Regions from separate parts of the Homo sapiens genome. Here region 1 is linked to region 2. Evidence: fine-mapped expression QTL. A gene starts in region 2. The other region holds a variant in brackets. All regions are shown on one strand. Distances are from middle to middle.

Region 1 (4,396 bases), 21 kb before region 2:
TATCTCTGAATTTTATTTCAGGATAGTAAAGAAGGCATTATAAGATATTGGTCATAGGTCTCTGTATTAGGTCTCAGAAGGCTGAGAATATTGGTCAGAGTTCTCCATTAGACAGTAAGTTCCTTAAGGACACAAGCTAGGTCTTACATTTATCTATCTTTCCCTTGGTACCTGCTATAGCAGCTTCAACAAATAAAAAATATTTGTTGATTTACTGAAAGCACACAGAAAAATCATGCCAATCAGCAAAATTCTCTGAGCTCTCATTTTCCGGGACTATAAATACTATTCAATAAACTGTAGGAAGCTCTTCTCTTCACAGCCTGAAAAACGTTCTTAGTTTCTCTATGATTTACTGCATCATTACAATGAGATGATTTAACAAACTGAGCTTTCTTTAAGGTAAGTAAATAAGGTTACAAATTACCTAATACAGCATAGAGCTTTTTAAAATACTAAAATGCTTAAGAATAGGAAGAAAGGATATGTTTAAGTATTTTTGTCACCCTGGGCCCCTTCCAGCATCCTCAATGAATTACACTATCATGTAACCAATTTTAAAACCCCAAAACCTAGGTCATGGTTGACAACTTCCTCGCTATCCTGTCCAATCAACTAAAAATCAAGTCTTGCTAATTTTACTTCCTAATCATGGGAAATTTTTCTAATAGGAAAACTCTGTCTCTACCACTGGCACCCTGGTCCAACTTACCATCATCTCTGCTTGGACTACTATAAGAGCCTCATGACTTGTCTATGAGACCTCCAAATTCATTCTCCTCCAATCAATCCTCATAATCACACTATGAGGTTGCTATCATTATTGTCATTTTGGAGATGGAAAAACTACAACATAAAGAGACTAAGAAAATTTCAAATTTGCGCAGCTAGATAAGGGCAGAGCTAGAAATTAAACCCAGATTTGTCTACTCTAGTGCGCCTTATATTTTTCACCACGTGGTACCCACACCCCCCAGCCTTAATTATATTACCCCAGGACTACTGTTCTGAATAATAATCATTCTCCTTATTATGGTTTGGTAAATGGAGTCAGAGATACAGGAGACTTAATTACATAAGTACTTATAAATACTTTAGTATCCTCTGGAAGTCTCTGACGTCCTCCTATTGCCCTATGCCTCCTTAATCTTAAAGTCTTCTGGTTGAAGGTTATAGCTGGCTTTCAGTTAAGTGAGGGTCTGCTATTATTTATTAATAATAATAATTCCAAGAATATTTCAACATCTGTTTTTGAAAAGCCTTGAAATCAATCAGTAATTTTTCTTTTCATTATGTTGCTTGATTAATTGAGCAAGATACTAAGCTACATATAAATGTTAACAGAAAAAATGAAGCTATTATGAACAATAAAAAGGTTGGCCTCACTACTGGGGCAATATGCAGTACGTAATAAGGATAATCAACACAAAAATATAAGGGGGCCAAATGCTGGCTTGCCTATGACTAAGAGATAACACTAAACAAAAAAACAGTCCACAAATTGGTGACATAATGATGCAGGTGAACTGACTTAGAAAACTGCAATTGCTGCATTATAAACAGCATAAGCACTGTGAGAGTTGCTAGGAGACCATTTAATTTATCTATTCTTCCTTACGGTAGTGAAAGAAGGGATAGTAGGAAACTTAAGGTGGGCCCCAGTGAGTTCTGGTTTACTTCCAGAGAAATAGCTTGCCCTCTGTCCTCTTTTTACATAGTCCGAAAGCACAAAAACATGACAAGTTTTAAAGTACTAAACCTGGTACATTTATTTCAACAGCTGACAGGTAATATATTTTTTTTTAATGGCAAGACAGATGAAATCTAACAGAGTATCTCTGCTTTGTTTCTCGTTTACTAGGGAAAATAACCTAAATCCTAGCCATACATGCTTTTGCAAGGAGGTTATTTGGAAGAATAATTCTGAACACTTAAAACATCACTATAGAAAAAGAGGCAATCACAATAAATCTTTATTCAAAAACTCCTATCAAGTAAGCAACAATGCGATAAACAATTTCCAATCTTCTTAGCCCAAAGAAACACACTGAGAATTAAAATGGCTGATAATATCAGAGATTTGTTTTAAAATGCTACCTGCACAGAAACTTTTCCTAAATGTTAGAAAAGAGGCCTACATTAGATGAGCTTCATACCGTAAGGTTTTTCTTCTGTTACC[C/T]TCCCCGTAGAATCTAGTGTATCAGTAGCTTTCCCCAGTTCTCCAATGGCAGTATATCTCTAGAGGAAGGGAAACAAGAGAGAAAATGGGCCGTGAGGCAAACAAAAACTGTTATGCATGTCTTGAAGTTTACACAGAATTTCACTACTACTACCAACCTGATACAAAATACAGGCTAAAACAACAGACTGCAATTGTTTTGTTTTTAATATGTGGAAAGCAATTGTGTAAACTGAAGAACATTAACAAACGTCTCACACTAGCCAATATGAGAAAGATAAACCTGATTTTATTGATAATTATGGCTTAATAATTATGACCATTATTATTGTAAGCAAATTTCTCAAACCACCTTTATACTGAGAAGTTTGTTTAAGGAAAATGTTCAAGTCTATCCATGAGTAGAGAGAATGGTACAATAGCCTTGACTCCATGGTCATCATAAGATTCAATAATCTTCCCACATATACAATTAAAATTAATTTTAAATAAGCCAACTTAGTACTTCTTACATGAAATACTAAGACAATTCTTAGTAACTAGGTCATGTATTAAACAAAAGCTAAATCTGTAGAAAAAGAGCAAAACCAGTATAGTCACAGAATTAGTGACTTAACTATTAAATGTGTTTTTTGTTTGTTTGTTTGTTTGAGATGGAGTTTTGCTCGCTGCCCAGGCTGCAGTGCAGTGGTGCGATCTCGGCTCACTGCAACCTCCGTCCCCCGGGTTCAAGCGATTCTCCTGCCTCACCCTGTGGAGTAGCTGGGATTACAGGCACCCGCCACCACGCCCGGCTAATTTTTTGTATTTTTAGTAGAGATGGGGTTTCACCATGTTGTCAGGCTGGTCTCGAACTTCTGACCTCAGGTGATCCACCCACCTCGGCCTCCCAAAGCCAAAGTGCTAGGATTACAGGCGTGAGCCACCACGCCCGGCCATGTGTTTTCTTAATAAAGATAAATTACTACTTAAGATCTCAGGAACAAGAATCGTTTCTAAGAACTGATCTTTATTCACAAGTGAAGAATTAGATCATTCTTAGTTACGTGAGGATTGTCTTATTTCTCATCTTAGGACACACTTGTAGTACGTACTCTTTTCACTTTGGTCAAACGCAAATTTTATTTGGGGCATCACATGAAGTAGTGAAAAAAGTGCAAGAACTTTATTTCCCACTGAAAATAATCTGTATTTATGTGAGCAATTTTATAAAAGAAAACTCAAAGTACTTTGCAGAAATATAAGCTTATTCATGACAAATTTATGAGGCTAGTGAAGGGACCCAAGACAAAAATGAGAAAAATATTAAAACTTCAAAACCTTGTAAGTATGCAGACATTTTATAACAGCTTAAGGCCCTTCGATGAAATCACCTTAATATTATCTAGCTCAGATTTTTTAAAAATAAATATAATACAGAAGGGAATATTCCAACGCATTTCAATTAATTTTTTTAAAGTTTCATAGGTATTGACAAAAATTAGTTTTTTGTAACTAAACACAGTCTCATCACCTGAGACACCCATTCCTGCTTCTATATTTTGGGACAATCAACCTCGACTAAGCATACCACAGGGGGAAGTATGAGAGAAGTACAACAATGGTAACAGCACAGGCTCAGGGTCAACTGGCTGGATTTGAATTCTGACTGTACCACAATTTGTAGACCAAGTTAGTCTTTCCGGCTGGAGCTTAATTTCCTTATCTTAAAATGTGGAAAACAATAATGCCTCATGAGAAGAAGCAAAGAGTTTAGAGTAACAATATCTAGCCCTGGTAAATAACAGATAATAATACCATCATCATCTTTATTTTCTAAGAAAGAAAATACAGAATGATTCGCAGTTAACAGTGGCTAGAGTTGACTCATCTGGTTACAGTCAGCTCCCATAAGGAAAGCAAAGCATCAAAATGCTTTATGATTTTTTTGTCTTTAGAGTCTGTTTAGTTGCATAAGAAAACCATGGTGCAATCTTGCAGACTATGCCTTGAATGTATCTGCAGTATTCTGCTCTGCAACGAGTTTGAACTAGGAACCTTAACATGTTTCCCAAGTATGCAATGCCCATTCTAGTCTCTGGACTCTTGGTGTTTTGTGCACCTGGGGCACATATGCCACTTCCCTGGCCTTGAACTCCCACTCTTCTCTAAGGATCAAACCTTATTCAGCTTTCAAAGCCACCCCTTAATCCATCCCAACTTCCATTTACCCACCTC
Region 2 (4,396 bases):
TAGGAATCAATGCAAAGAAAGACAAGGAATGGTATTAGAGGACACAACCACTGATCATGGTTGTCAAACATGGCATTAGAATGTAGGTATCTTTAAGAACCTTCCCAAGGCCGGGAGTGGTGGCTCATGCCTGTAATCCCAGCATTTTGGGAGGCTGAGGCGGGCAGATCACCTGAGGTCGGGAGTTCGAGCCCAGCCTGACCAACATGGAGAAACCCCGTCTCTACCAAAAATACAAAATTAGCTGGGCATGGTGGTGCATGCCTGTAATCCCAGCTACTTGGGAGGCTGAGGCAGGAGAATCACTTGAACCCAGGAGGGGAAGGTTGCAGTGAGCCGAGATCTTGCCATTGCACTCCAGCCTGGGCAACAACAGCGAAACTCCATCTCAAAAACAAAAACAAAAACAAAAACTTCCCAAGCAATTCTGACAGCCAATTACAATGACATTTGGAAAGCCCTAGCCTAACTAACATAAATACAAAATAGGCCAATCACAAGCAATATAGAAATCGAGGATAATGAGAATGTCTCTAGCTAAAGGTTCTAGCCTAGCAAGAGCCTTGAAACATTTTAACCAAGATTCAACAAGAAACTTCAGTTCTTAGAGGCAGATTAGCCAGAAGGCCAGAATATGGCTTTGTCAGAAACTTGTCTGAAAGAATGGTAATCATTACCTTAAGGATAAAAAAAAAAAAAAAAGAAAAGAAACCCAGAGTTTAGCTAACAAATCAGGAAAGCAGCAGTTCTATGAAGGAAAACTAAAAAACTATGATGATACCACAATACATATCCTTGATGCAATTCCTCACTTTGACGTCCTCTGTATGACCCATACTTTCAGGCAACAAAGCAAAACTTTAATAAAAGAATAAGTAGTCGTGATACTGGAATTAAACATCTGCAGGAGTGTACCTATTTGCCCATAAACACTTAAATCTGTACTGTCAGTTATAATTCCCATCAGAATAATTTGTTTTTGCATTTTTTTAAAGTGTAAAGTTTTCCATGGGACACTAAACAATGTAAGAAAGTCCCTGTTACTGGTTTAATGGCGAGACAGAATACGGCCAAACTCTGGAGGGCCTTGAATAACCTAACTAACTAGTTTTACCACCACAAGGTGCAGAAATTACTAGGCTATCAGCTCAGTTAAGGTAAGAGAGTTATCTTTCATCTTCAAGTCTCTATAGGCTAGCACAGACCTGGCTTATTGTATATGTCCAATGAACTTAAGGATCCTGGATGCTTTATGTGTGAAATCATCCGAGCTGATTAACGGGGTGATTCTCTAGGCTTTTCTACTATTTTCCCAGTGTACGTGAATAAACGAATCAATAAAATGAACACTCTCAGCTTAGTGGCCAAGTTATATTTAGTGTTCCTCAAATGTGGTCCATAAACTACTTACACTGGAATCACCTGGAGCAACTATTTAGAATTGCAGTTTCCTAAAAATACCCCGAACTCTCCGAATCACAATCTCGGACAGGGCAGGGATTAGGAATCTGTATTTGTACAAGAGACTCTAAGTAATTGTTAGGCCCATTAAAATGTGAAAACGACTATATTAAGTCTTGGTTAACGAAGTATATCTGCATTTCCAATACATTTTGAGGAATGCAACTTTAGGGGTGCAGAACCAGTACTTCCTTTTGGGGTTCATCCACATGAACCCAACAAAAGCCTCCTGAGGGATCGATCAGATTACAGAAAACAGGTCTGCACGCCCAAGGGCAGGGTTTTATTGTGTAAGTACGGGATTTTTTTCCTCCCGTTGAGAACTACAACTGCCAAGTAGGCTACAAGAGTTCGTGCCAGGGCAAGTCCAAGCCCGAGATGCCCGAGATTCCTGTCCAGAGCTAATTCAATGGTCAGTCTCCCTTTCCCCTCCTTTTGTCTCTTGAATCACGAGCGTCGCAAAAAGCCTAATGTGCTTCCCCTCTCGCAGCGACCGCCTCAGCCTGGTCCCCACCCGGGCTGCAGTACCTGCCAGCAGCTTCTCCTTCAACCGATTCAGCAGCTCGGCTGAAGTGGGCCCTTTGGGCTTGTGCACGGCGAACACGCCGCTCAAGGACAGCAGCTTGGTAGCCAAAGCGGCCTTGGAGACCCTGGCTTCGGATCCGGTCCTGGCCGCGGCCGCAACCACCGCGGCTGCAGCCCTTGCTGACGGGGTCGCAGCCATTGCTGCGACCGTTCCTGCAGTTTCAAGGACAGGGGATGTGTCTGTTTTCAAAGACGGCGAAGACACCACCGCCGCCTCAGAAGCGGCCATACTTTTGTAGCCCAGACCTGTTTCATCGTGGAGGTGCACGCTGATGATGCAACAAGAGTGCGCCTGACAGGACCCTCTTCCTCATACCGCGAAGCTGCGCAGAACGGAGAGGTCGCACGGACTTGTGGGAATTGTAGTCCATGGCCTTCCCATATAGACCAAGAGCTTGCTGTGCCCTTGGACTTTAAATAGAAAATTTTAAATGTTGACTTTTCCTGAGGCTTGTGAAGATCCATGGCTTCCTGGGCTCACTGCTTCATTGATTGTATTGTGCTCTTACATTCAGGTTCAGAATTAGAAGACATCCAAATGTGAGCTCTATTAGAGCAAGGAACTTATGTACCACGTTAACTGAGACATTCCCAAATGCCTCACATGTTGTAGGCACTTAAATAAATATTTGAAAACGTATAAATAAGTATGAATTCTTCAAATTCCCCGAAGAAACCAAGCCAATGGTAAATCACTTGTGCTTATTTTGATGCTCTTCATGCACTCCTGTTCACCCTCCCCAAACCCCCACTGACCCCACTACAATTTTTAATAATTCTGATTTTGAATATCAGCTCTTCTGTGGGTTGAATTCCTTAGTACACTTTGTTTAGATATCAAAAGGTATTCTTGCAATTCATAAACTTTAAACCACTTCCCATTTGAGACCTTCTCCCTAAAAGTTATTCACTCCCTAACAAGATTGAGGAATATTGTTTTGATTCCAGCACAAGGCAGAGTGGAGAAAAATTACTTCTGCACCAGAAACATTAAATGCTATCATAACTATTGTGAGACAGATAAAGTTTGCCCTCATTGTTTTTTAGGTTTCTTTACAACCACTCTTTGTCCTCATCATACTCTTGGACTTTAATATCTAGTATTTTAGTGATGCCCCTTAGCTGCTCACAATCACCAGTTATGGGGTCCCATTTGAACTTGCACCCATTCGTGCAACAGACACATGGCAGAACAATTTATTAAAAGGAAAAAAAAATCTTTGAGGGAGTTTTTTCAGGGTGGAAAGCTGAAACTCCTAGAAGGAAGTCACTTACTCTTGTGGTCTATTATAAAAGCCTAAGCTAACTGAAAAGATTGGCATATCACAGGATTAGTGGACACCTGGCCCTGCTTCAAGATGTTAATTTTTCCACAAAGATGTTGTGACTTCAGAAGGGATGACTGCACCCAAAGGAGCATGGTGTCCATTAGCCTCAGGAAAGAGTTCTCTATTCTTGTGCCATGGAAGCAGAGAGCCAGGGACTTGCAGGGAAGGTTGCAAGGCTTGATCAATGATGACTTGGATGACTCCAAGGCACTTGGAGATTAGAGGCCTTTTCCCAATTGTCCGGACATCAGCAAGCCTCCCTATTTCTCTTGTGGCTCTGGGGGTGAGGGATGCAGAGGGAGAACAGAACTAGGGGTAACATATGATGCTTATATTTGAATTTTCCATCAGCCCAGTGTAGGACCAGAGTTAATCTGATTTAAAGAAAATGAAGAAATGTATATTTCTTGCATGTTTGATTTCTGGGATGCTAGGACACAACAAAATTAATGCTACTCTGCTATTATATCGGCATTCTTGGGATCAGAAGCACCAAGCTTTGTTTTTCTAAGGTAATCAACATCTCCCACATTGGGCAGGCCTTGAATTCACAGGTTTTTTTTGCTCCAATACATGTATGAGTTTGGGCTCTTTGGTCAACAGAAAACTGATTCATACCAGCTTGGGGGCACAGGGGGAGAAGATTTATCAGAAATACACTGACACACTATTCAGAACCTAGAAAGTTCTCTGTCTCTAGCTGCACATCCTTCTTTTATGCTACTCACTTGTGTCTTTTTTTTTTTTTTTTTTTTTTTTGAGACAGAGTTTCACTCTTGTTGCCCAGGCTGGAGTGCAGTGGCACAATCTCAGCTCACTGCAACCTCCGCCTCCCGGGTTCAAATGATTCTCCTGCCTCAGACTCCTGAGTAGGTGGGATTACAGGCATGTGGCACCATGCCCAGCTAATTTTGTATTTTTAGTAGGGACGGGGTTTCTCCATGTTGGTCAGGCTGGTCATGAACTCCCAACCTCAGGTGATCCGCCTGCCTCGGCCTCCCAAAGTGCTGGGATTACAGGCA

The links. PIP is the estimated chance that this variant, and not a neighbour inherited with it, causes the effect. A credible set is the group of variants that fine-mapping cannot tell apart.
Region 1: its variant is the best candidate, but not a certain one, in a credible set for the expression of TRUB1 in whole blood (INTERVAL, PIP 0.73).

The regions. Positions count from the first base shown.
Region 1 is chr10:114,957,568-114,961,963 of GRCh38, reverse strand. TRUB1 (TruB pseudouridine synthase family member 1) reads right to left here. Exons shown (of 8, transcript NM_139169.5): 4 at 2,157-2,238. Among named protein-coding and RNA genes, the nearest start is that of TRUB1, 22 kb to the right of the region's middle. The variant C/T (reference allele first, on the strand shown) is at 2,180.
Region 2 is chr10:114,936,133-114,940,528 of GRCh38, reverse strand. It overlaps TRUB1 (TruB pseudouridine synthase family member 1), which reads right to left and starts at 2,334. Exons shown (of 8, transcript NM_139169.5): 1 at 1,990-2,334. The coding sequence starts at 2,275. RefSeq lists an enhancer at 1,963-2,502.